4 linked regions of the Homo sapiens genome follow. The protein of the gene in region 2 interacts with the protein of the main gene of each other region in a pairwise test. Each region holds a gene or a part of one and is shown on either strand. Other genes may lie near its edges. The genes, in order: FAM83D, HMMR, BACH1 and SVIL.

The links.
Region 1: the proteins of HMMR (region 2) and FAM83D interact in binary tests that used the Homo sapiens proteins (3 or more experiments, as listed by UniProt).
Region 3: the proteins of HMMR (region 2) and BACH1 interact in a two-hybrid assay, tested with the Homo sapiens proteins (one study listed by BioGRID).
Region 4: the proteins of HMMR (region 2) and SVIL interact in a two-hybrid assay, tested with the Homo sapiens proteins (one study listed by BioGRID).

Annotation. Positions count from the first base shown.
Region 1 is NC_000020.11:38,929,415-38,936,441, reverse strand, and holds part of FAM83D (protein FAM83D), read right to left. Parts: intron 1-7,027.
Region 2 is NC_000005.10:163,484,608-163,491,634, forward strand, and holds part of HMMR (hyaluronan mediated motility receptor), read left to right. Parts: intron 1-4,643; exon of another isoform or gene 4,644-4,776; intron 4,777-5,782; coding exon 5,783-5,945; intron 5,946-6,504; coding exon 6,505-6,557; 3' UTR 6,558-7,027. UniProt on the Homo sapiens protein: Receptor for hyaluronic acid (HA). Involved in cell motility. When hyaluronan binds to HMMR, the phosphorylation of a number of proteins, including PTK2/FAK1 occurs.
Region 3 is NC_000021.9:29,322,905-29,329,931, forward strand, and holds part of BACH1 (transcription regulator protein BACH1), read left to right. Parts: intron 1-3,154; coding exon 3,155-4,489; intron 4,490-6,582; coding exon 6,583-6,789; intron 6,790-7,027. UniProt on the Homo sapiens protein: Transcriptional regulator that acts as a repressor or activator, depending on the context. Binds to NF-E2 DNA binding sites. Plays important roles in coordinating transcription activation and repression by MAFK.
Region 4 is NC_000010.11:29,631,955-29,639,323, forward strand, and holds the start of SVIL (supervillin), read right to left. Parts: upstream 3,018-7,369; 5' UTR 2,466-3,017; intron 1-2,465.

The sequences.
Region 1 (7,027 bases), on a different chromosome or scaffold from region 2:
CCTTAAATGGCAGCTACTCATATTCTTAGTCCCGATTCCGTCACTATCCCTGGACAAGCCATTCCATCTGAGTCTCGGTGTCCTTGAAACAAGGAACCCTTCCAGCTCTGCGAAGTCAGTGATTCATACACACTCAATGGGCAGGTCTAGGCTCTGACCAGGCACATGTGCAGCCCCAACAGGCCCCTCAGGGCCAGTCATTCCAGTTCTCATTCTAGCTCTTCTTCCTCTGTGTGAAGGAGGAAGTTCGTACCGATCACCCCTTCTCACTGCACCTCAGTTTCCCTCCCTTCCCTCCCAGAGTCATAAAGTGAGGTCAGGTGTGCAACATGCTTGGAATTCCACCAAAGATCTGCACCCACTCAATGTCAGCCTGTGCTGTGGTCAATAACATCCTGGCTGCTGCATTCTCCCAGCTGACCACATGGCCTCCATTGACCCTTCACTTCCTCTCCTAACTCTCTCAGGACCCTCTTGCTAAAAAAGCAAAAGATATATTTTCTCTCCATGTATTACATGTTTTAATAGAACAGAAATAATCTCCTTGGGATTTTGTCAAAAACCTTTAAGTAACTATCTTGACATCTTTGGGGTTTAAAAACAAAAAAGAATGTAAATTCCCACAGCGAAACCTAAACTTGCTTGTGTGCACTGTTCTCCCTCTGTTTCAGAGGCTATTATCAAATTAACAATTTAGGCCCGGCACGGTGGCTCACATCTGTAATCCCAATACTTTAGGAGGCTAAGGTGGGAGGATCACTTGAGGCCAGGAGTTTGAGACCACTCTGGGCAACACAGTTGACATCCTGTCTCCAGAAAAAATTTTTTTAATTATCTGGGCGTGGTGGCATGTGCCTTTAAGTCCCAGTTACTCGGGAGTCTGAGGCAGGAGGATTACTTGAGCCTGGGAGGTCGAGGCTGCAGTGAGTCATGATTGCACCACTGCACTCTAGCCTGGGCAACAGAATGAGAACTTGTCTCAAACAAACAAACAAGCAACCAAATAAAACAATTTAAGTATTAGATGAAAGTGCTGGCAGGGCCACCAGAGGGTGGCAGGAGCAAAGTTTTCACTGATCTCTGGAGGGACTGACCACTATTCAGTACTCTGTACTATTCCAGCATGAAGTACACAAGCAGGTGGGCTTTTCAAAGGGGAGGGAAAAGCACCAAGAAGTTAGGGGGTAGGGGGAGGAGGGCTTATCATTTTGAATTGTTTTTATTTTATAAGTATGTAAAACATTTGCCTAGTTCCAAAATCCAATTTACAAAACAAGGTACTTTCAAAGATACTTAGTTTCCATCCTTGTCCCTCCTCCCCATTGAGATAATATTTCCAATAGTTTTTTGTATATTCTTCCATTTTTTCAATATAAACAAGTATACACAGGTGTATATAAACATATTTGTTTTATATAAACATGTGTATTATGTATATAACTATGTATATGTGCTTATATCCCCCTATAGGTAAAAGGTAGCATGGAATACTACACATTGTTCTAGACTAGCGTGGCCCAATAGAACCTTCCAAGATGACAGAACTGAATCTTTATTTAATTTTAATCCATATAAATTTTAATAGCCTCATATGGCTACTACACTGGTCAGTACCATTCTAGATACCGCATATCAGAGCTAGTCCTCATTCCTTCTTAGAGCTACAGGATGTTCCACTGCAGAGACGAATCGGTTCATTCACAATGATGAACTCATCCTCTACTGACGAACACCTGAACTCTTTCCTGTGTTTTGCTATTATAATTAGTGTTGCAACGCATGGCCTATTGTCTACAACTATTCATATTTTTGCCAATATATCAAGATACAGAGAAGTGGAAGTGGTAGATCAATGGGTAAATATAACTGAAATTTTGCTAGATATTGCCAAATTCCCTTCCAGAGGTTATATCATTTGCATCAAGAATTTTTTTTTTTTTTTTTTTTTGAGACGGAGTTTCACTCTTGTTGCCCAGGCCGGAGTGCAATGGCACGATCTTGGCTCATCACAACCTCCACCTCCCAGGTTCAAGCTATTCTCCTGCCTCGGCCTCCCAAGTAGCCAGGATTACAGGCATGTACCACCACAACCAGCTAATTTTGTATTTTTAGTAGAGACCGGGTTCAAGATTTTTTTAAGCCAATATATCCACTACATTTTTGGGTTTTGCTTGCTTTTTTCCTGAAGTAACATACCTTCTATCCATAAAGAAGTCAGAGAAGAATTCTGCAGCTTCATTACTGTCTGCTAGACGCTAAGGGAAAAGAATAAAGAAATGGCAGACAGAGGCCAGGCATGGTAGCTCACGCCTGTAATCTCAGCACTTTGGGAGGCCGAGGAGGGCAGATCACGACGTCAGGAGCTTGAGACCATGCTGGCCGACATGGTGAAACCCTGTTTCTACTAAAATACAAAAAAATTAGCCGGGCGTGGTAGCGGGCACCTGTAGTCCCAGCTACTTGGGAGGCTGAGGCAGGGGAATCGCTTGAACCCGGGAGGCAGAAGTTGCAGTGAGCTGAGATGGTGCCACTGCACTCCAGCCTGGCGACAGAGCGAGACTCTCAAAAAAAAAAAAAGAAAGAAAGAAATGGCAGACAGAAAGTAGAATGGTGGTTGCCGGGGCCAGGAAAGGAGGGTATGAAGAGCTAGTGTTTAATGGGTACAGAGGTTCACTTTGGGAAGCTGAAACAGCTCTGGAGATTCGGCTAGTGACAGCTGCACAACAGTGTGAATGTATTTAATGCCACTGAACTGTACACTTACAAATGGTTAAAATGGTAAATTTTGCTACGTATTTTTTACCACAATATTTTTAAAGAGAAATGGCTAAATTCTAAAATCCTTAACCTGACACATGAAATCAAAAGGAAGGGATAAATAGTAGCAACACTTCAGTCCAGTGGGTAATGTCCCATAATGATGCACTAGTGAGAACTTCTAGGCCAGTGGTTCACAACTGGAGGGCGATTTTGCCCCCACAGGGCATTTAGCAATGTCTGGAGACATTTTTTTATTGTGGTAAAATAGATAAGTTTGCCATCTTAATAATTTTTAAGTGTACAATTCAGTGGCAATAATTACATTCACAACCATCACTACCATCTGTTTCTAAAACTTTTTCATAGCCCCAAACAGAAACTCTGTGCCCATTCATCAGTAACTCACTATTTCCCACTCTGGAGACACTGAATATCATGACTACCTGGTGTGAGGGATGCTATTGGCATCGAGTGAATGGGGGCCATGGATGCTACTCAACGTCCTACAATGTACAAGACAGCCCCTCAGGACAAAGAATTATCCAACCCAAAAGGTCAACAGTGCTGAGGGTGAGAAGCCCTGCTTGGGGCTGACATGAGCATTTGGAACAGAAACTGATCACACCACACAGGCTCTACTGTAATGCAGAGGAAAGTTGTGCAAGAACAGGAAAGCCTTCATTCAGATACATCCAAGTAAATGCCAGGGGCCCCCAACAGATTCCTAAGCTGCTACTCCTCCTGGCAGGGCTCTCTGGGAACGCAATGATCCCCACTACTAACGCTCAGGTTATCAAGAGGATGCCCGAGGGTGAGGTCATAGCAAAAGTGGCCTCTTTGGAACAAAAGAGAATAGGCACTGGTAAGAAACGTGACTCTGAGGAATTGGAACCTCGTGGTGGTACCAGCTTTGCCTCTGAACTCTCATTCAACAAACCAGGAATAGCCGGACAGCCAATTCATAAGCACATTGCCAAAATGAGGCTATGTAGCCCTTCCAGGCAGGCGGCCACAGCCCAGCCAAATCCCAGTTCACACAGCAACAGAGGCAAAAAGCTGAATGCGTCATCAACAGATACAGTGGTGGAGGGGTGGATCTACAGCAAGTATGTAGGGAAAATATCCTGTATAATTCAAGATTATCCAAAAACTTGCTTAGGAAACAAACATATGGGTTCTCAAAAGGTTCAAAACAGTATTTCCTCCAATTTTGGTGAAGCTCGCCTGAGCACCTGGTAAGCAGCCAGCTTGTATTCAAGCCATGCTATACGTAATTGTGTTTTTATTTATTTTTTAGAAACAGGGTCTTGCCCTGTCACCCAAGCTGGAGTGCACTGGCATGATCATAGCTTACTACAGCCTCCAACTCCTGGGCTCAAGTAATCCTCCTGCCTCAGCCTGCTGAGTAGCTGGAACTACAGGCACATGCCACCACACCCGGCTAATTTTTTAACTTTTTGTAGAGATGGGATCTCGCTATGTTGCCCAGGCTGGTCTCAAACTCCTGGCCTCAAGGAATCCTCCAGCCTTGACCTCCCAAAACACTGGGATTACAGGCATGAGCCACCGCGCATGGCCAAACCATTTGTTTTTAAACACTGTACCTCATTCAGTGTGGCAGAATGCCCACACTTTGAAAGGTATATAGAAACAAGAGTCAAGGAAGGGGCTGGCAGATTCACAAACCCCAGGCACAGCCACCCAGGGACAAATACTTGCTGAGTGGAAAGGCAGACAGAATCACCTGAACTACTTTTCTTCCTATCTACCGCTCCCTTCCCCCTGCCCTTTATTTCTCCTCAAAGCATGTAGCTGAATGAGCAAAGGTGCACATAATAGGCCCCTACAGTATTTACTGAGCATCTTTTATGTATCAGACACACTGAGTGATTCTGTGTGGTCAGAGAGCTGCTGGATAAAACCTATCCCAGAACCAGCGCTTCAGGCTGCAAAGCCAGGATTAGGCCCTACCATTTACCAAGTAACCCTGGCTTCCTGTGCCTATACTCTGGTCAAGGAGCCTCGTATCCTGGCTCCTTCCAGAGACATTCCTGAAGATGCAGGGTGGTCCTCAGACCACCTCAGTGAAGGCAGATAAAGCTGCATGGAGCGAACACTGAGGTTCGACCGTGCTCTACTGCAGCCTGGCCCCAACCTCTGGGGTTAAGTGGGACCCTTCATGTGGCATTCAAAGTTCCTTCATTCACCCACCAAAAGATTCTCACAGATCCCTCTGCTCCAGGTACCAGAAACATCTATCTGGCTCTATCTTTCCCAGGGAGAGGAAAACACACTCTAGTTTACAAAACCTAAACTCAGAGACCTATGTTCTCCTGGCATCATGAACCACCTTCCCCACTTGATGGGTTGAGGAGGTTCTCTGCCAGCCTTAATGCCTCCTACTCTAAAAACTGACCACCTCGTTTTCTTCCTGAAAAGGACAGGTCTAGTCATTGTCATTTTCCTGTTTATAGAATACGCAACATGGAAATTAAAAAGTCCCAATCTTCAACTGTTACAAACCTTCAGCCTGTTGAAAACTACCAAAGCTCCAATCCTTCCTCATGGCAGGGAGGCTGTATGCAGCAGGGATTAGGAGTGTGGGCTTCAGTGGCCGGGCACAGCGGCTCACGCCTGTAATCCCAGCACTTTGGGAGGCCAAGGCAGGTGAATCACTTGAGCCCAGGAGTTCAACACCAGCCTGGGCAACATGGCGAAACCCATCTCTACTAAAAACACAAAAATTGGCCGGGCGCAGTGGCTCACGCCTGTAATCCCAGCATTTTGGGAGGCTGAGGCAGGCAGATCGCGAGGTCAGGAGATCAAGACCAGCCTGGCCAACATGGCGAAACCCCATCTCTACTAAAAATACAAAAATTAGTGGAGGGTGCCTGTAATCCCAGCTACTTGGGAGGCTGAGGTAGGAGAATCGCTTGAACCTGGGAGGCAGAGGTTACTGAGAGCTGAGACTGTGCCACTGCACTCCAGCCTGGGCCAAAAGAGCAACTCTGTCTCCAAAAAAAAAAAGAAAAAATTAGCTGGGCATGGTGGTGTGCTCCTGTAATCCCAGCTACTCGGGAGGCTGAGTCAGGAGAGTCACTTGAATCCAGGAGGTGGAGGTTGCAGTGAGCTAAGATCATGCCACTGCACTCCAGCGTGGGTGACAGAGCAAGACTCTGTCTTAAAAAAAATAATAACAAACAACAAAAAAAAAACACTTGAGCTTCAGAGCTGGAACTAGACAGACTTGGGCTTGAGCCCAGCTCTGTCCCATGCTAACTGTGTGATCTCAGGCAAGTTACTTAACTTCTCTGTGCCTGGTCTTTTCTTAATTGTAGCCTCCTCCCAGTGTTGGGAGGGTTAAATGAGGTAATTCAGGTCAAGGGTTTAGCACAGAAACTGACCCATTCAAAGTGCTCAATCATATCACCATTAGGTACCTTTGCTATCAGAACACGGATGCAGAACAGCTTCTCATTTCATCCTGAAAGCAGCCTGAGACCTACACCTTCATGGTCCTCGCTGTCACAGGTACTAGATTTCAAAGGATGTGGTCAAGGTGACACAGCCACTCCCTTGTCCACAATGCATGCCCATAAATAGTAGTAGCTCTTAGCTAGCCACCAGATCTGCTGTCACCTCTCCCCACCTGAGCACAGGCTCCTGAACCCTCCACAGGGAGTGTGGTGGTTAACAGTGGTTCAGACATTCTGTGCCTCAATTTGAGTACAGGCTCCTTCATTCTCTAGCTGCATGACTTCGGGGCCACTTAACTTCTCTATGCCTCAGTTCTATCAGCTGTAAAATGAAGATGATAATCGCACCTTCCTTGGGATCACCTAGAACAGTGCCTGGCAAACAGAAAGCATTACTTTTTTTTTTTTTTTTTTTAAAGAGACAGGGTCTCCCCGTGTTGCCCAGGCTGGAGTGCAGTAGCCATTCACAGCGTAGTCATAGTGTACTACAGCCTCAAACTCCTGGGCTCAAATGATCCTCCTGCCTCAGCCTCCTGAGTAGCTGGGACTACAGGCACATGATACCATGGCCTGGCTTTTTTTTTTTTTTTTAAACAAAAGAGATTGTCTTTGGGACCTCAAATTCAGCACTGTCTCAAACCCAACTCATTTCAGCATCCCTTACCCCAGCTTCCTCTCCTACCACTAACCCGCTGTGGGGAATTTGGCTGCCCCCAAACATTCCAGGTCCTTAAACACTTGTGGGCCAGCCCCCATACCCTAGGTCTGGCAAGCCCCACCCAGCTCTGAGG
Region 2 (7,027 bases):
AATTGACAACCCATACAATCCACCCATTGAAAGTGGACAATTCAGTGTTTTTTAGTATACTCACAGATTTGTGCAACCATCACCATAGTCAATTTTAGGACATTTTCATCACCTCAAAATGAAACCTTGTTATCCTTTTCCTAACACTCTCCTATCTCCTCACCCCACCCCACCCTTCAGCCCTAAGAAACCACTAATCTACTTTCTGTCTCTGTTGATTTCCCTATTGTGGACCTGGCATATTCATGGATTCAAATAATATGTGGCCTTTTGTTACTGGCTTCTTTCAGTCAATTAGCATAATATTTTCAAGATTCACCTGTGTTGTAGCATGGAGAGTACTTTATTTTTTTTATAGCCTAATAATTCATTATGTGGGTATACCACATTTTATTTATTCGTTTGTCAGTTGATAAACACTTGTTTGCACATTTTTGGCTATTATGAATAATGCTACCATAAACATTCATGTACAAGTTTTTGTATGGACATTTGTTTTTTCCTGGGACATATTATTTCCCTGGGAAATAATAGGAGGGAAATTGCCAGATCATTTGATAACTCTACATTTAATCATTTCAGGAAGTATCAGACTACATTCAGATGAGATCGGGTGCGTTCAGGGTGGTATGGCCATAGAAAGGTCAGGCTGTATTCAAAAGTGGCTCATACCAATCTATATTCTACAGGCGGTGTACGAGGGTTCCAATTTCTCCACATTCTTACCAACATTTGTTATTATCTGACTTCTTTATCCTAGCCATTGTAGTGGGTATGAAGTGGTATCTCATTAACTTAACTTGCATTTTCTTAATTGGTAATGATGTTGGTCATCTTTTCATGTGCTTACTGGCCATTTGTATATCTTCATGAAAGAAATGTCTGTTTATACTCTGCTCATTTTTAAATTGGATTATTAGTCTTTTTATTATTGTGAGAATTCTTCATCAATTCTGGACACAAGTCTCTTATGTATTATTTGCGAATATCTTCTCCCATTCTGTGCATTGTCTTTTCACTTTCTTGATGATGTCCTTTGACCCAAAAAACTTTTATGACGTCCAGTGTGTCTATTTTTTTGTTTGTTCGTTCCTTGGTATCTATCTCCTCTGCCAAATTCAAGGTCAGGAAGATTTACCCCTGTGTTTTCTTCTAAGAGATTTATAGTTTTAGCTCTTACATTTAGATTATTGATTGATTTTGAGTTAATTTTTGTATGTGGTGTGAGGTAAGGGTCCAGCTTCATTCTTTAGCATGTGGACATGCAATAGTCCCCACACTATTTTTTAAAGAGAATATTCTTGCCTCCAGTTAATGGAGTTAGCATCCAATTAAAAAATCATTTAGACTGTACATGTATGGATTTATTTCTAGACTCTCAACTGTCTTCCATTGATCTATACATCTATCCTTGTGCCACCACACTGTCTTGATTACTGTTGTTTTGTAGTAAGTTTTGAAATCAGGAAGCGTGAGTCCTCTTTGTATTTTTCAATATGGTTTTGTCTATTCTGGACCTCTTGCAATTCTATATTAATTTTGGAATCAGTTTTTCTACAAAGAAACCAGCTGGGATTCTGATGGGAATTGCATTGAATCTGTAGATCAGTTTGGGACATATTATTATCTTCACTAGGTTAAGTCTTCTAATACATGAATATGGGATATTTTTCCAATTATTTAGATCTCATTTAATTTCTTTCAACAATGTTTTATAGTTTTCAGAGTATAAGTTTTCCACTTCTCTTGTTAAATTTATTACTATTTTATTCTTTTTGATGTTTTGTAAATGAAATTGTTAATTTCATTTTTGGATTGTTGATTGCCAGTGTATAGAAATACAATTGATTTTAATATATTTATCTTGTATCCTGCACCCTTGCTAAACTCATTTTAGTTCTAATAGTTTTTTAGTGGATTCCTTAGGATGTTCTTATAGATCATGTCTTTTGCAAATAGAGATAGTGTTACTTATTTTCCAATCTGGATGCCTTTTATTTCTTTTTCTTGTCTAATATCTCTGGCTAAAACCTGTAGTATAATACAGTGTTGAATTTAGAAGTAATGAAAATGGATGGACAGCCTTGCTTTGTTCCTGATCTAGGGGGAAAGCATTCAGTCTTTCTCCATGATATATGATGTTACCTGTATGATGTATATAGCGTGACATTATTAGATGTTGATTTGTTGGCCAGCCGAGGTGGCTTACGCCTATAATCCCAGCACTCTGGGAGGCCAAGGCAGGTGGATCACCTGAGGTCAGGAGTTTGAGACCAGCCTGGCCAACATGGTGAAACCTCGTCTCTACTAAAAATACAAAAGTTAGCTAGGTGTGGCGGCGGGCGCCTGTAATCCCAGCTACTTGGGTAGGAGAATGGCTTGAACCCAGAAGACAGAGGTTGCAGTGAACCGAGATGGAGCCATTGAGCCTGGGAGACAACAGCGAAACAATCTAAAAAAAACAAAGATGTCGATTTGTCATAGATGCTCTTTATCAAGTTGAGGAAGTTCCCTTCTGTTTCCTAGTTTGTTGAGCATTTTTATATGAAAGGGTAATGAATTCTATCAAGTGCTTCTTCTATTTCTATTGAGATTATCATGTAATTTTTTTATTCTGTTGATATGATGTATTTTATTAATTGATTTTTAGATATTAATCTAACCTTCTGAGATAAATCTCACTTGGTTATGGCATATAATTATTTTTATATGTTGCTGAGGGGTTTTTTTCAGCCATATTCCTAAGATATACTGGTCTGTAGGTTTTCTTTGCTTTGTTTTTGTTTTTTTAATGTCTGTCTCATTTTGGTATCAGGGTAATGGTGACATCACAAAATGAGTGAGAAATGTTCCCTCTTTTCTATGTGGAATGGTTTTTGAATAATTGGTATTAATTCTTCATTGAATGTGTGGTAGAATTTATTGGTGAAGCCATCTGGACCTTGGTTTTTCTTGTGAATATTTTTTGGTTACTAATTCAATATCTTTACTTGATATAGGCTTATTCAGATTATCTCTTTCTTCTTGATTCGGTTTTCTTCTTGAGTAGTTTATGTCTTTCTATAAATGTGCCTAATTTGTTGGTATATAATTGTTCATAGTATTCCTTTATAATCTTTTTTTTATTTCTGTAAGGTCAGTAGTAATGGCTTCTCTTTATTTCTGATTCTAGTAATTTGAGTCTTTTTTTTTTAAGTTTCTTTCTTTTTTTAAATTTTTAGTGGAGAAAGAACTTTATTTTTTTGTTTGGTTTTTGGGTTTTTTTAGAGACAGGATCTCACTCTGTCACCAGGCTAGAGTGCAGTGATGCAATCACGGCTCACTGCAGCCTCAACCTCCCTGGGCTCAGGTGATCCTCCCACCTCAGCCTCCCAAGTAGCTGGGACTACAGGCGTGCGCCACCACATCCGGCTAATTTTTCTACTTTTTGTAGAGACAGAGTTTTGCCATGTTGCCCAGGCTGGTCTGGAGCTCCTGGGCTCAAGGAATCTACCAGCTTTGGCCTCAAAATGCTGGGATTATAGGCTTGAGCCACTGCACCTGGCCAAGAACTTTTCTTTTTTATAATTTCATCTTTTATTTTAGATGTGGGGGTACATATGCAGATTTGTTACATGGGTGCATTGCATGATACTGAGGTTTAGGGTATGACAGGTCCCGTCAGCCAGGCAGTAAGGATAGTACTCAATAGGTGGTTTTTCAGCCCTTGTTTAATGGCTGAAAAATCCAACATCCGATTACTCTCAGACATTTTTTCTCCTTGTGTCCAAATGTATAGGTTATACTTTTCTGTTTATTGGCATGCCTTGTAATTTTTCATTGGAAAGTAAATTTTTAGATCATATATTGTAGCATTTCTGGGTACAGCTCCCCCTCCTTTTGGGGGCTTTTTATTTGCTTGTTTGCTTAATGAGTGGCTCAATTATTTTAGGGAAACATATCCCACTACCTCCCCAGACCCCAACAGTATTGTGCCTCTGATGTTGCTGTTCAGGGAGGTACAGTTTTAGGTGTGCCCACAATTACCCTGGGATGACACTTGCTTTGGTAGGGCTGCCTTCCTCTCTTTCCGTGAACATAGTGACTGTAAACTCCAGTAGATGCTGGCTCCTTGCTTGATTATTTGCAACAGTGCCTTAGGGCATAAATTGCTCTATAAACTAATCCAATCAAATTCTGGCTCCTTTGTAGGGATTGCATACGAGAGCAGTGCTGGATATTTATTCTGACTACAGAAGGGCTCGTCCCAGCTGTCATATTCCCTAGTTTTCTCCTGCAAACTAACTAGCCTACTGTTCAGCCTGTATCTTAAATCTCCTCCCATTTCTCTCTCACTATAACCACCACTGTTCTTTAATGGTTCCCCAACCTTTTTGGCACCAGGGACCAGTTTTGTGGAAGGCAGTTTTTCCACAGACCGGATCACCCAGCTTGTGATGGGTTTATGTGGATGGTTTCAGGATTAAAGTGTTCCACCTCAGATCATGAGGCATTAGATTCTCATAAGGAGCATGCAGCCTAGATCCCTCACATGTGCATTTCACAATAGGGTTCACACTGCTGTGAGAATCTAATGCCGCAGCTGATCTGCCAGGAGGGGGAGCTCAGGGGGTAATGCTTATGCTTCCTGGCTCACCACTTACCTCCTGCTCTGCAGCCGGGTTCCTAACAGGCCTTGGATGGGTATTGGTCTGTAGCCCGGAGGTTGGGGACCCCTGCTTTAGAGCACCCTTAGGCTTCAGCTTCTCCAAGCTCTGTTGCAGGTGAAGTCAGTTCCTTTGAAAAGAAATGAGGAGCTCCCTGTTTTATGGCCTACTTGTCTTTTCCGCCCTCCTTTCCCCCTCCCCCGACAATATCCCTGAGCCAGGACTAGAGCTGAAATTGGGGACAATGGCAGTTTTCTCTCTGAGTGACATCCTCTGCCCTAGGAGCTGAGTTTTCAGTGGACTTGTGGGGAAGAGATGAGGAATAGCCTCAGGCCCTCTTGAGTAACCTCCTGGTGTAGAACCATCCCCCTCATGAGCCAGAGAAAGAGTCATCGGGGCCCAGCATTTTCAACACACTGTGCCCAAGGTGAGCCCCTGTTCCATGAATGGGGCTGACTGGAGGAAGGGATCCCCCACCTCACAATTGCATTTGTCCAGGATATAACTGCAGCCACAGGGAGCTGGGGACAAAATGAGAAACTCTGATGTCCTGGTCCTCCTGGGAGGGAAGCTTCTGACTCGGAGTTGGGGGAAAAGAGGGCCCTGTGCTTTTGGCTGTAGCCGTCTGGCGTGGACTTTGCCTTGCTAAGCTGGGAGTGGGAAGAGGGGAAGGAGTTTTGGCTTAAACACTGCAGACTCTCTTTTTCACCAAATTTTTGCAGATTTTCTTGAATAGATGTTTCTTCATTTGCTATTTTTCCCTTAGGTCAATTTTCAGAGGCTTTAACTGGTTAATATTTTATAACTTTTAGTTTCACTAGGGAGCAGGTCAGCAGAACTTTCATGCTGTCATGCCAGAAGTCCATCTCAGCAATTACTTTTGAGTTGAACTTTTATCAGAAAAATAGCTTTGTAGCTGAGGAGGGGCAAGGAGATTTAAAAGACTGTATCTCCTTTGTCACAGCTGTTTCATGTCATTTTGTAATTCAGTCTTAAAGCCTGTGTCTAGTAGTGATTTTTGCTGTTGAGTGTGATAATACATAAACAACTTTGGAATTTGCCCGCAACATTGGTAACACATTTCACTGACATACTCTTTAATAATTGTTTATTACCTATTATTTCTTTTTACCTAGGAAGTATCAAAACTCCGCTGTCAGCTTGCTAAAAAAAAACAAAGTGAGACAAAACTTCAAGAGGAATTGAATAAAGTTCTAGGTATCAAACACTTTGATCCTTCAAAGGCTTTTCATCATGAAAGTAAAGAAAATTTTGCCCTGAAGACCCCATTAAAAGAAGGTAAGACATGAATAAATGTATAAAAGTGTCCTCTTCCTTTGGATTTGCTTTTATAGCATTTAGCAAGTCATCCATTTTATGAACTGTGAAAATTTGTTGACACCTTCTGATAAAAGCAGTTCTTACTGAGATTGTTGTGTACAATGACTGTTTTCTTCCTCCTTCTACGCTTTCTTTTCTGTATACCTGGATTCTGCCTGTTCTTCAAGGCAAATCTCAAATCTTCCTTGAAGCTTTGCATGACTATTTTGTCCCTGTCCACACACCCCAAATTACTCCCTCTATAATACCCTTAGCATTTTAACCTAAATGTCTCTTAGGTCCTTAATCATTTTCTGATTTGTAGTTTTAGAGAAGTAAATTTCTTATTTCTTGACTGTGAATGTTTGTCTTTCACGATAAATTAAAGTTGGTTGAAATGATAAATCTAAAAATTATCTTACAGAATATATTGCTTCATCTGCCTTAAAGAAGATACAAGGCCTGTTTTTAGTTTATAATGATGGATAAATTCGTTTTAATCTAGATTACTAATCCTTCTTTTCAATAATTCTTCTAGGCAATACAAACTGTTACCGAGCTCCTATGGAGTGTCAAGAATCATGGAAGTAAACATCTGAGAAACCTGTTGAAGATTATTTCATTCGTCTTGTTGTTATTGATGTTGCTGTTATTATATTTGACATGGGTATTTTATAATGTTGTATTTAATTTTAACTGCCAATCCTTAAATATGTGAAAGGAACATTTTTTACCAAAGTGTCTTTTGACATTTTATTTTTTCTTGCAAATACCTCCTCCCTAATGCTCACCTTTATCACCTCATTCTGAACCCTTTCGCTGGCTTTCCAGCTTAGAATGCATCTCATCAACTTAAAAGTCAGTATCATATTATTATCCTCCTGTTCTGAAACCTTAGTTTCAAGAGTCTAAACCCCAGATTCTTCAGCTTGATCCTGGAGGTCTTTTCTAGTCTGAGCTTCTTTAGCTAGGCTAAAACACCTTGGCTTGTTATTGCCTCTACTTTGATTCTGATAATGCTCACTTGGTCCTACCTATTATCCTTCTACTTGTCCAGTTCA
Region 3 (7,027 bases), on a different chromosome or scaffold from region 2:
CTATGGTTCATATTTTCAAATTATTGAATGAGACTTTACAAGTAAAGCAAAGTTTGATTCGTGGATTTAGGAGGAAAGGTATGTGCATACATGCATGTGTGTATGCATTCATTCATTCTTTCTAATGTGTAAATCATAAGTTTTCAAATATTTGAAGTGTTTCATTATAGTGACAATGTCAAAATACCTTATAACTCACTATCCTAAAGACCTTTTTAGATTATTTTAACATATTTAAAAATTTTAATTGAAATTTTTATCGAGTGTATTAGGGTTCTCCAGAGGGACAGAACTAATAGGATATATGTATGTATGAAGGGGCGTTTGTTAAGGAGAATTGGCTCACATGTTCACAAGGTGAAGGCCCATTATAGGCCACCTGCAAGCTGAGGAGGAAGGAAGCTAGTAGTGGCCCAGTCCGAGTCCAAAGGCCTCAAAAGTAGGGAAGCCAACACTGTAGAGCCTTCAGTCTGTGGCCAAAGGCCCAAGAGCCCTCGGCAAACCGCTGGTGTAAGTCTGAGAGTCCAAAGGCCAAAGAACCTGGCGTCTGATGTCAAGGGCAGGAGGCATCCAGCAGGGGAGAAAGATGAAAGCTGGAAGACTCAGCAAGTCACCTATCCCACCTTTTTCCTCCTGTTTTGTTCCAGCCTCGCTGGCAGCTGAGTGGATGGTGCCCACCCATATTGAGGGTGGGTCTTCCTCTCCCAGTCCACTGACTCAAATGTTAGTCTTCTCTAGCAACGCCCTCACTGACACACCCAGAAACAAGACTTTACAGCCTTCAATCCAATCAAGTTGACATTTAATATTAACTGTCACACTGATGTTTTCATGTACAGATGTAAGAAACAATGCAGAGTTCCTTTTCACTTTGTCCAGTGTCCGCCATTGATAACATTTTGCAAAATTGTAGTATAGTATTACAACCAGGATATTGATACAATCTCCCATAGCGTTCAGATTGCCACAATTTTGCTTGTACTAGCATGTGTGTGTGCGGGTTAAGTTCTATATAATTTTATCCCCTGCGAAGGTTTGTGTATCCACCACCATAGTTAAGATAACAGCCGGGCCCAGTGGCTCATGCCTGTAATCCCAGCACTTTGGGAGGGCGAGGCAGGCAGATCACCTGAGGTCAGGAGTTCGAGACCAGCCTGGCCAACATGGTGAAACCACATCTCTACTAAAAATACAAAAATTAGCCAGGCGTGGTGGCGGGCACCTGTAATCCCAGCTACTCGGGAGACTGAGGCAGGAGAATCACTTGCAGTGAGCCAAGATCGTGCCGCTGCACTCTAGCCTGGGTGACAGAGAGAGACTCTGCCTCAAAAAAAAAAAAAAAAAAAAAGGAACTGAACTTGCCAACACAAAGATCCCTTGTGTTGTCCTTTTATAACCACAGACATCTCCTGCCTACACTCCATGCCCTCATCCCCTTGCCCCCTTCCTCCGTGCCTAATCCATGGCAACCACTAATCTTTCTTCCTTTTCTAAAGTTTTGTCATTCTAAAAATGTTATATAAATGGAATTATGCAGTATATTACCTCTTAGGATTGATGTTGTTTGACTTAGCTGAGATTATCCAGCTTGTGTGTATCAGCAATTTATTCCTTTTTATTGCTGAGTAATATTCTGTAGTATGGATGTACCTTGTGTGTGTGTGTGTGTGTGTGTGTGTGTGTGTGTGTGTGTGTGTAGCTTTTTACCTATTGAAGGAAATCAGGCTAATTCTGGTTTTTGGCTATCACAAATAAAATTGCTGTAAACATTTGTGTACTGGTTTTTGTGTGAACATAAATTTGCATTTCTCTGGGATAAAAGACCAGGAGTGCAGTTGCTGGGTTATATGGTAGTTGCATGTTTAGTTTTATAAGAAAGTTTTTTTCAAAGTGTCTGTACCATTTTACATTCCCACTAGCAATATGTGAGTGATTTAGTTTATCGGCATTCTCATTAGCATTTGATGGTATCACTGCTTTTTATTGGAGCCTTTAAAAAGCCTAAACATGGTTTAGCATGTTTATGTTTTTAAGAAGATCACAGCCGGGCGCGGTGGCTCACGCCTGTAATCCCAGCACTTTGGGAGGCCTAGGCGAGTGGATCACGAGGTCAGGAAATAGAGACCATCCTGGCTAACGTGGTGAAACCCCCGTCTCTACTAAAAATACAGAAAAATTAGCCGGGCATGGTGGCAGGCACCTGTAGTCCCAGCTGCTCGGGAGGCTGAGGCAGGAGAATGGCGTGAACCCGAGAGGCGGAGCTTGCAGTGAGCCGAGATCGCGCCACTGCACTCCAGCCTGGGCGACAGAGCGAGACTCCGTCTTAGAAAAAAAAAAATCACAAATATTAATATTATCTTGACCACTCTTATAAGAACTCAGTGGTTTCAAATTAATTTTGTGCTTTTAATCCAGGATGATGCCTTCTGTGTACTGGAGTTGGTTCCATTTGCCTCTCACTTTAAGAGGCAGGTTTAATGTAAATGTGCAAGTTTCTACTTAAAAGTTTTGTTACTTCGAGTCCATGAATTTTTGCTGAAACAGTACCGAGGCATGATTTTTATAACTTCTCTTAGATCACTTTTAAAAATCTGAATCTTTAAAACTTTTACTGTTAGGAATTTTTGACAGTAAAGTTAATAGTTACCAGTTAGTATGCATTTACCATGGATCAAGACTTTGTAACTGCTTTACAAATACTGTTTTATATCCTTTAAAATTCTGCTTTTGTAGCTTGTAGCAGTTGGAGTTGTTTGGAATACAGTGGCCATGTGGAGCTGGGCTAGCAGTAGACTCACTATGTGTGGCAGGTAGTGTTCATCCTGCTCTAATTCATAGATGATTTTTTTTTTCACTATCATGGGAAAATTGTGGTAATGTCTTACATCTTTAACTTATGTGAGTAAACCATAATTCATGTGCAATTAAGAGAGGACTCTATAAAATAGTGTGTGGTCCCTGTGAAAAGCATGCTTTTCCAGGATCTTTTTCTTTTACATTTCTTAGAAGAATATGTTTTCTTCAAATTAAAGTACATATTTTATAATTATCACAAATAAGTTACATATCTCTCTATTCCTCTTCTACTTATTTTGTTTTTATGTACTAGACAGCTTTCAAATGATGTGTTTGTTTTTATTTTGTGTATCAACAGGTGACAGTTAAAGGATTTGAACCTTTAATTCAGTTTGCCTACACTGCTAAACTGATTTTAAGTAAAGAGAATGTGGATGAAGTGTGCAAATGTGTGGAGTTTTTAAGTGTACATAATATTGAGGAATCCTGCTTTCAGTTTCTGAAATTTAAGTTTTTGGACTCCACTGCAGACCAGCAAGAATGCCCAAGAAAAAAATGCTTTTCATCACACTGTCAGAAAACAGACCTTAAACTTTCACTTTTGGACCAGAGGGATCTAGAAACTGATGAAGTGGAGGAATTTCTGGAAAATAAAAATGTTCAGACTCCTCAGTGTAAACTCCGCAGGTATCAAGGAAATGCAAAAGCCTCACCTCCTCTACAAGACAGTGCCAGTCAGACATATGAGTCCATGTGCTTAGAGAAGGATGCTGCTCTGGCCTTGCCTTCTTTATGCCCCAAATACAGAAAATTCCAAAAAGCATTTGGAACTGACAGAGTCCGTACTGGGGAATCTAGTGTCAAAGACATTCATGCTTCTGTTCAGCCAAATGAAAGGTCTGAAAATGAATGCCTGGGAGGAGTCCCGGAGTGTAGAGATTTGCAGGTGATGTTAAAATGTGACGAAAGTAAATTAGCAATGGAACCTGAAGAAACGAAGAAAGATCCTGCTTCTCAGTGCCCAACTGAAAAATCAGAAGTGACTCCTTTCCCCCACAATTCTTCCATAGACCCTCATGGACTTTATTCTTTGTCTCTTTTACACACATATGACCAATATGGTGACTTGAATTTTGCTGGTATGCAAAACACAACAGTGTTAACAGAAAAGCCTTTGTCAGGTACAGACGTCCAAGAAAAAACATTTGGTGAAAGTCAGGATTTACCTTTGAAATCCGACTTGGGCACCAGGGAAGATAGTAGTGTTGCATCTAGTGATAGGAGTAGTGTGGAGCGAGAAGTGGCAGAACACCTAGCAAAAGGCTTCTGGAGTGACATTTGCAGCACGGACACTCCTTGCCAAATGCAGTTATCACCTGCTGTGGCCAAAGATGGCTCAGAACAGATCTCACAGAAACGGTCTGAGTGTCCGTGGTTAGGTATCAGGATTAGTGAGAGCCCAGAACCAGGTCAAAGGACTTTCACAACATTAAGTTCTGTCAACTGCCCTTTTATAAGTACTCTGAGTACTGAAGGCTGTTCAAGCAATTTGGAAATTGGAAACGATGATTATGTTTCAGAACCCCAGCAAGAACCTTGCCCATATGCTTGTGTCATTAGCTTGGGAGACGACTCTGAGACGGACACCGAAGGAGACAGTGAATCCTGTTCAGCCAGAGAACAAGAATGTGAGGTGAGCAGGAATATGTTCTTAATTCATTGTTTTAATAACCATTAATTGGGATTTACTGTGGATCAGCTCCCTTTGCATCATTAGGGATATAATCAGGTTCAGGGAGTGGGGAGGAAACTCATACAAAATTAATTGTAAGACTGTGTGATAGGGCTGGGCGCAGTGGCCCACAACTGTTAATTCCAGCACTTTGAGAAGCCGAGGTGTGGGTGGATCACCTGAAGTCAGAAGTTTGAGATCAGCCTGGCCAACATGGCGAATCTCCGTCTCTACAAAAATTAGCTGGGTGTGGTGGTGGGTGCCTGTAATCCCAGCTACTCGAGAGGCTGAGGCAGGAGAAGCGCTTGAATGTGGGAGGCGGAGGTTGCAGTGAGCCAGGTTTGCACCACTGCACTCCAGCCTAGGAGACAGAGCAAGACTGTCTCAAAAAATTTTTTAAAAACACTGTGTGATAAATACCAAAAGAGAGAGATGAAGTTTGAAGGACTTCTGTTCATTCGTTTCCAGTAGATATATTAACCATAAAGTAGGTTCACACATTGGCTGTGTTCACACATCGGCCATTTAATTGTTTAAATCAAATGCCATGCTGCAAGACAAAAAAGAATAATGATTCTATGCTCATTATTTGATAACTCCTGGAAAAATGCAGCATATATTCAGTCTTGCTCATTGCCAACAAGAACCTCTAGACCTGGGACATGTCCCTGAGCAGTGGTTTAACAGTGATTAGTTGTAGGAATGTGACTTCTAGTGGAGTAAAGTTTATTGGATCTAGTTTTTCATGGCCATTGATTTTTAAATTTTCCTTTGGCCATTTCAACTATTGATGAATGTCTTAATTTAGCATGAGTTACATGTAGCTGGTATGATATTAATCAAAGCAAGCTTGATTTGTATATTCTGTTTGTATTTGATAGATCCTTTCTGTAAAATATTACTTATAAGTCCAATAATGACAAGGGCCTGTTAGTTCCTTCCAAAAATATATTAATTAAAATATTTTTTCTTTTTTTTGTTTTTATATTTTATGATTTTTTTTGCCTTTCAATAGTTGGCTTTTCTCTTTATAATCACAATTTACATTCTTTTTAAAAATTATTTTTCTATTTTATCCATTGCATTTTTTCCCCTTTCTTGGGCTTTATTTGTTTTTTGTAAGAATACTTAACATGGGATCTACCCTTATAACAAAATTTTAAGTGTACGATACAGTATTGTTAAGTATAAGCACAATATTGTACAGCAGATCTCTATAACTTATTCTTTTATGACTGAAACTTAACCCATCCAATTGCAATTCCCCATTTTTTCCCTCTCCCTAGCCCCTGGCAACCACCATTCTACTCTCTGTTTCTGTGAGTTTGACTGTTCTGTCTACTTCGTATAAGTGAAATCATGTTGGATTTACTCTCCTCTGTGTCTGGCTTATTTCACTTAGCATGATGCCTCCCAAGTTCTCCATATTGTAGGCAAATGGCAGGATTTCCTTCTTTTTATCAGGCTGAATGGTATTCCTTTGTGTATATACACCACGTTTTCTTTATCCGTTCATCCATCCATGGACATTTAGGTTGTTTCCATATCATGGCTATTGTGAATAATGCGGTAACGAATATGGCGGGGAGTACAGACTGGGCACAGTGGCTCATGCCTGTAATCCCAACACCTTGGGAGGCTGAGGTGGGTAGATTGCCTGAGCCCAGGAGTTTGAGATCAGCTTGGGCAACATGGTAAAACCCCATCTCTACAAAAAATACAAAAATTAGCCAGGCATGGTGGCATGTGCCAGTAGTCCCAGCTACTTAGGAAGCTGAGGTGAGAGGATCGCTTGAGCCTAGGAGGTTGAGGCTGCAGTAAGCCATGATTGTGCCACCGTACTCCTGCATGACAGAGACCCTGTCTCCAAAAAAATATGTGTAGATCAGTGCAGATATCCTTTTGAGATTGTATAGAAATTGGGATAGAGGCCTATGTTTTCTTTAATGTAAAATAAGTTCTCTGAAAAACTTAGATGTATACCTTCATCTTCCTAGGTTTGACTATAATTATAAAATACAGCAATAATTAGTAATATTTATTTCATATTCTAGGTAAAACTGCCATTCAATGCACAACGGATAATTTCACTGTCTCGAAATGATTTTCAGTCCTTGTTGAAAATGCACAAGCTTACTCCAGAACAGCTGGATTGTATCCATGATATTCGAAGAAGAAGTAAAAACAGAATTGCTGCACAGCGCTGTCGCAAGAGAAAACTTGACTGTATACAGAATCTTGAATCAGAAATTGAGAAGCTGGTAAGTGTAAAAGTTTCTTGTTACTATTTAAATTCCACCACTTTCTTTTTTGTCAAGGAAATAGTTTTTAAATTTCTAGGTCAGATATAATGCTCAATTACTTATTTTAATATGTATCAATTACCATTTTATCATTTTTACCATGATATGCTGTGATATGTAAGTGCTTTTTAAAAAGAAGGTTTTCAAATTAAGAATGACTTTACTGTCTACCTAATCATTAGTGGTTGTGAATAGA
Region 4 (7,369 bases), on a different chromosome or scaffold from region 2:
GCACCCTGAGATCAGCGCTTTAACATAAAATTGCAATGAGTGTCCTAAAATCCCAGGCAGCTGCAGATTCAGGAGATGATTCCAAGGCTGCCTTTGTACCCTAACAATCACAAGGCTCCTAGCAGCTTACTCTCCATAACGCTCCATGTAGCCCGAGAGCCCTGCATGCTGGAGCTCACCAGACATCCTTATAAAAATCCCAAGGGCCCTTTCCTTTGGATGCAATTCCTCAACTGTAGAATATTAAATAACTCGCCGGGTGTGGTGGCTCATGCCTGTAATCCCAGAACTTTGGGAGGCCGAGCGCTGGTAGATCACCTGAGGTCAGGAGTTCAAGACCAACCTGGGCAACATGATGAAACCCTGTCTCTACTAAAAATACAAAAATTAGCTGGGCGCAGTGGCATATGCCTGTAATCCCAGCTAGTAGGGAGGCTGAGGCAGGAGAATCACTTCAGCCCAAGAGGTGGAGGTTGCAGTGAGCTGAGATTGTGTCATTGCACTCCAGCCTGGGCAACAGAGCAAGACTCCATCTCAAAAAAAAAAAAAAGAAAAAAGAAAAAAAGAATACTATATAACCCCAGGTGTTGCCAAAGATGTTCACTCTGAATTGAACTCCAAAGTCTTCCAGAAGTCTGTTTATCACAAAACAGTCTGTCTCCAAAGTAGAAGCAAAGATAAAGAACTGTTTGTTGAATGGCTGACTGATGTCCACTGCAAGCTGAGCGCATTAACCAAATTTCACTTGGAAGACTATGCATGTGGCAAAATTAAATGCACCAATAGTACTAAATAAAGGTAGGCAGGAAGGCACCTAATGTACTACAATAGCTTGTATAACATCAGCCTCATCCAGTGATCAAGGTGACCAAATAAATTATCTTTAACACACACACACACACACACACAGAGTATAGACTCCAAAGTTTCCATTGTAAGACAAATTCTCTGACACTAGTGCACACTTGATGCCCTGGATCCTCAAGACATCACCGGGTGCCGGGTGCAGGGGCTCACGCCTATAATCCCAGCACTTTGGGAGCCCAAGGTGGGCGGATCACGAGGTCAGGAGTTCAAGATCAGCCTGGCCAACATAGTGAAACCCCGTCTCTACTAAAAATACAAAAAAAAATTAGCTGGATATGGTGCCAGGTGCCTGTAATCCCAGTTACTTGGGAGGTTGAGGCAAGGAGAGTCACTTGAACCTGGGAGGTGGAGGTTGCAGTGAGCCGAGATCGTGCCACTGCACTCCAGCCTGGGTGACAGCACGAGACTCCATCTCAAAAAAAAAAAAAAAAAAAAAAGACATCACTGGTTTTGGTGAGAAGAGACAGCACACATCTGCCTGGCACTGGGCTGCTCTTCTTTGGAGACAGAGGGTACAATTTATATCCTGCAGTTTTACTCAACAGGGGATACCACCAGCAGTTTGGCCAGGGTAATGCTGTATGGGACTGTCCCCTACACCATGTAAATTGGGCATTTACAATTCTTAACCACATCCTCCCAAATGCCAGTGAGTCATTGAGAAAACCTGAAACACCCCCATGCATTTTCAAACGCCCCCTAGGGTTGCCACACTATCTCCGGTGAAGAACCCTCGCAGTATTCACCGATGAAGTTCTTCTCTATAAATACTCTGTTTTCCTACCTGGTAAAAATAATGACTGCCCGTACTTGTCCATCTGATGTGGTATAAAGAAATAATCTTTTTTTTTTTTCAAAGAAGCAACACGTCAAATAAGCCTTCTATGTTCTAGAGTTCACTGCTGTTTTTCAGCAGAAACAAATCACTGAGCTAAATTACAAAGAGACCATAGCAATCTCCAGGGCTTTAAAAGGCTGATGCAGTATTTTTTCTTGGAGAATTTAAAAATAAAATGCAGTTCAAACTCTAGAACCTACAGTGAGGTTTTTCTCATAAATTCTGGAACATCGCAAGTTCTAGAAATCAAGCCCTGAAGAATGAGAGTACCAAGGCAAAGAACCCTCAGAACAAAGATTATGCAAAAGGATCACTGGTGATTTTCTATTTTTACATGAATTATAATGGCAGTGAAATAAAACTTGCCCTTCTGAACTCCACCCCCATACTTGTGCTACGATTATTAAAGTACGTTGCATTGTGAATATACTTTAATTCCAAGACTTTAAGTGCTAACATTTAGACAGAATGTACTAAGTTATATTAATCAAATTTTTAGTATTAAACCTTTCTCTACCATAAAGTAAATCCTTTAAAAAAAAAAAAAAGTCCAATCCTTCTCAACCCAAGAAATATGCCCAAGGGTATCTACAGGAATGGCTGCAGTAACTGGCAAACGCTGGCAGGAATTTTCCAATGACTGAAGTCAACAAATCCTCAGGAAACATGCTCAGACAGATGGCACTTAAAAAAAAGCAAAAACAAAAACAACAAAAAAAAACCTACTGCATTTAGATTTATAGGAAGATTTTTCACTTACTTCAAATTTCTGTATAATCCTCGTTCCTCTAAGTTAAAGGGGGAAAGAAAATCACACTGCAATTCCTTATTTTTCTAATTTAAAAAACAAAACAAAACACGTTATACCCTCGAATCCAGCTTTTGATGTCTTCGAGTATTTTCTTGGAGTCTCTTTCCAATGAATACTACTTTCAAATTCTAAGCACAAAGTAAAATCCCAAAAGTTAGCCCAAATAGCGTTGTACAAAATCAAAGATCACGATGTCAGCAAGCAACTGCATCTATCAGAAGCGATGATGATTCAGAACAGGATAAATTTAGAATGGTGTTTTCCAAAAGGCTTTTTGGATGTCAAATTCAGGAAACAGGTAAAGGCTACATCCCAAAAGTTCCTCTCCAAAAAGAACGCCAAAATATTAATAAAAAGAGTCTTCTTTTTGAAGTTTTTCGTCCCCTAGTGTCCTCGAGGCTGAACTTCCCCAACCTGGCCTCGGTGGAGCCATCCATTACTGGGCAAATCCACATGAAACCTGAGGACACTTCAGCCTGGGGAGGACGCAGTCAGAGCAGTGAAGCAACTTCACATGGGACGGGCCTTTTATGGCCTGAACTCGAGAGCCTTGATACCAGCTCATCTACCAGAAATAGCCCTGGAAATTCAGAGGAGCCCATCAGCTGTTGCAGCAGGCCTGGCCAGCAGCTACTTCAAATGCAATTAGGTTGTCCACACTGTCTTTCAGCTTGTTGTATAGAGAAATTAAAAATACAACAGCAGTCTACTGAATAAGCTACAACAATACAGATTTGGATGAGCAAACATTTCTCTAACTTAGTTTTTTTAGGCTAAAAAAAGAGCACACAATCGTTGACAAAGCTCAGACACTGAACACCCCAAAAGTAAGTAACAGACATATATACAATGAATGCCCGAAAAGTAACTAACAGACATACACATCTATGAAACAGCATGATATAATGGCACATGTCTCTACAAGTTTACAAATTCTGTAACCTCTGTGGATTTCTTCCCACTTCCAATAACTGTAGAAAATGAATCATCAGAAGAAAGCATTGTGCTGGAAGTACTTTCTCGAAAATGACACAAATATTTTCTCTTAAAGCCAAAGTCAGTCCTCTGAACTGGCAAGATCTATCTTCCTATGGCTCTCAGGTAGCTCACCTCACTGAAAAACCAGATGAACCTAACCTAATGAAAAAAATATTAACTATGAAGCACAACCACTTCTTAAATGGCCATATGCATTTTTTTAAACATTAAAAGGCCACTGACATGTTGAATACACTCAAACAAATATCACAACCCTGTTTACAAAATACTTACAATTGTAGGTCTCTGTCCCTGTCGGTACCAAGAACAGAGAGTCTTAATTGTCTGCACCAACTTCAGTATAAACCACAAACCCCATAAGACTTGGGCTGGAGTACAGCAAAAGCTGTGTGCTGCGCGGGGCCTCCCAGTGGTATGCCTCTGGGTGTCAGGGTTCTCAGACCACCAGCTGCTTCGGCCAGCACAGGAGGCCTCTCAAAGCAGGATCTAAATTCCTGTTACTAATTAACCCTACAGAACAATGCCTCTCCCTAAGAGGACAGTCCTGAGGCCAGGTGAAAAGATGACAGGTATAATAATTAAACATTGGCTTCATGACTGTTTTGTGCTAGGGGTATTTGTCCCAGTCAACTGTTTTTTTTTTTTTTTACCCATCTCAAGATAACAAACAAACAAAATTTCATAGCATGGCTTTTGCATCCTAATCTCAGTCCTGACCCTGATCTTCTTTTCCCTTGGACCATATTGGCTTTTTCCTCATTTTAAAGTTTATTTGATCTTGTTTTACGTATTTTTATAAGCTGTGGTAAGCCCCTCCCTAGAGAAAAGTAGGGCAAAAATAAATAAAAACTTACATGAAACAGTTCACTATTTGGGTCTTCTCTGTAAAGAGAAGATAGGAGGAGAAAATGAATCACTGTTACCACAATAGTGCTATTTCCTTCCTAAAAAAAGATTCACTCCCACAAAATAAACATCAGTCTTTTGTGTGCCTCTTAAGTTTTTGCACACTGCTTCCCCATAGCAACCAAACTGTCCTAGATTAATACACTGGAGTCTAATAGGGTAAATCTCCTTCGTCACTTCTTTTATATATCCTTTCTGTCTTTGATTATTTAAATCCCAGTTAATTCTTCCTGTGCAATCCATTTACTTTCCTAATTTTTTTGCTATCTGCCTGGCTTAGAAGACTCATCATACTCACTTCTTTCCAATGATGATAATCATGAATTGGAAGAAAAATCAACACACAAAAGATGTCAATTGTCCCCAAACTGATCTACAGATTAACAAAATTCCTATCAAAATCTTGCAAGGTTTTTTTGTTTTGTTTTGTTTTGTTTTGTTTTTTTGAGACATGGTCTTGCTCTGTTGTCCAGGCTGGAGTAGAGGTGTGCAATCATGGCTCACTGCAGCCTCAACCTCCCCAGGAGGCAGTCCTCCTGCCTCAGCCTCCTGAATATCTGGGGCTACAGATGTGCACCACCACACTGGGCTAATTTTTTAATTTCTTAGTTTTTGTAGAGATGGAGTCTCATTAGGTTGGCCAGGCTTGTCTTGAACTCCTGGGCTCCAGCTGTCCTCCCACTTCGGCCTTCTTAAGTGCTAGGATTACAGGTGTGAGCCACCCTGCCTGGCCTCACAGTGATTTTTGGCAGATATTCTAAAATTTATAGTAAAGGTACAGGCCCTAGAATAGCTAAAAACCATCTTGAAAAAGAAGAAAAAAGTTAGTCTGGGCGTGGTGGCTCATGCCTGTAATCCCAGCACTTTGGTAGGCCGAGGCGGGTGGATCACCTGAGGTCAGGAGTTCGAGACCAGCCTAATGAACATGGTGAAACACTGTCTCTATCAAAAATACAGAAAAATTAGCCAGGCGTGGTGGTGCACACCTGTAATCCCAGTTACTAGGGAGGCTAAGGCAGGAGCATCGCTTGAACCCAATCCTGGGAGGCAGAGGTTGCAGTGAGCCAAGATCATGCCACTGCACTCCAGCCTGGGCCACAGAGTGAGACTCCGTCTCAAAAGAAGAAAAAAGTTAGAGCAATGAATCTATCCCATATTAAGGCCTACTGGATAACTACAGTAATCAAGACAACACAGCATTGGCAAAAAGAGAGACACATAACATAGATCAGTGGAACAGACTGGAGAACCCAGAGACAGGCCCACATGAATATGCCAAACTGATTTCTGTGCCATTCAACAAACAGTGCTAGAGCAATTAGACACCCCTAGGCAAAAGCAATGAGCTTCTACCCAATCCTCATTGTGGTACATCCATACCATGGAATACTACTCAACAATAAAAAGGAACAAATTATTAGTACGTTCCACGACCTGGATAAGAATCCAGGGAATTAAATTATGCTGAGTGACAGAAAGCCAATCCCAAAATGTTAGATACTATACGAGTACACTTACATAGCATTTCCCAGATGACAACATTATAGAAATGGAGAAGAGATGGGAGTTGTTAGAGGTTAGGGATGGGGATGAGGTGGTTTAACAGGGCCACATGAGAGACCCCTGTTCTGGAACTCTTCTATTGGATTGACCACATCAGTGTCAATATCCTGGTTGTGATACTATTGTATAGCTTTGCAAGATGTTATCACTGGAGAAACTGGGTAAAAAGCCCTCATGATCACTTTGTACTATTTCTTACAACTACATCTGAATCTATAATTATCTCAAAATTAAAAGTTTAAGCAGGGCGGGGTGGCTCACACCTGTAATCCCAGAACTTTGGGAGGCTGTGGCGGATGGATTACCTGAGGTCAGGAGATTGAGAACATCCTAGCCAACGTGGTGAAACCCTGTCTCTACTAAAAATACAAAAATTAGCCAGGCATGGTGGCTGGCATGTGCCTGTAATCCCAGCTTCTCGGGAGGCTGAGGCAGGAGAATTGCTTGAACCCGGGAGGCGGAGGTTGCAGTGAGCTGAGATCATGCCATTGCACTCCAGCCTGGGTGACAAGGGTGAAACTCTGTCTCAAAAAAAAAAAAAGTTTAATTAAGTATTTTTTCCAAGGAAAAAGCATCCCAACCCCAAAAAACAAACCTACTTCAAATGAAACTTTCAAATATAATCCATTTGTAAATGGGTGACTTACTGTAACTGTACTTCACATAAATCTATAGAGATTTACTTATTATCAATGCCATCTTACGAATTTCAAACTGGAAATATTTATTTTTCCCTATAAGAATGAAAGTTAATCCGAAAGTAAAATATTTGATACAGAATAAGAAATGGAAAGCATTGCTTTCCAATTGAATGTGTTTATTTAGCAGGCTGTGTAGATACTTAAAAAGAGCACCTCTAATACCTAGGGCCCATCCAAAAATAAAAAAGGAAACCTGCACATAATTTTCAGAAATTTCATCTACTGCCCCAGATTATTAATTTTTAAAACCTGACCAACTCTGGAGAAATAGCAAGAAAACAACTTTTTGGAAAGGGAGGAGATCGGGTCATCTCAATTTTTGATTATATTTCATTTTTAGAGACAGGTTCTCACTATTTGGCTCAGGCTGGTCTTGAACTCTTGGGCTTATGTGATCCTCCTGCCTCAGCCACCTGAGTAGCTGGGATAACGAAAGTGTGTCACTGCACTGGTCTTCCAATGTGAATACTGCTATAAATATAATAGAAAACAAGTTTTTGAAATCTGTTCTCTAGAACTCTTCCCCTTTCTTTTTTGTTTTTCTTTTTCTTGAGACAGAATCTCACTCTGTCACCAGGCTGGAGTGCAGTGGCGCGATCTTGGCTCACTGCAATTTCCTCCTCCCGAGTTCAAGTGATTCTCCTGCCTCAGCCTCCGGAGTAGCTGGGACTACAGGTGTGCGCT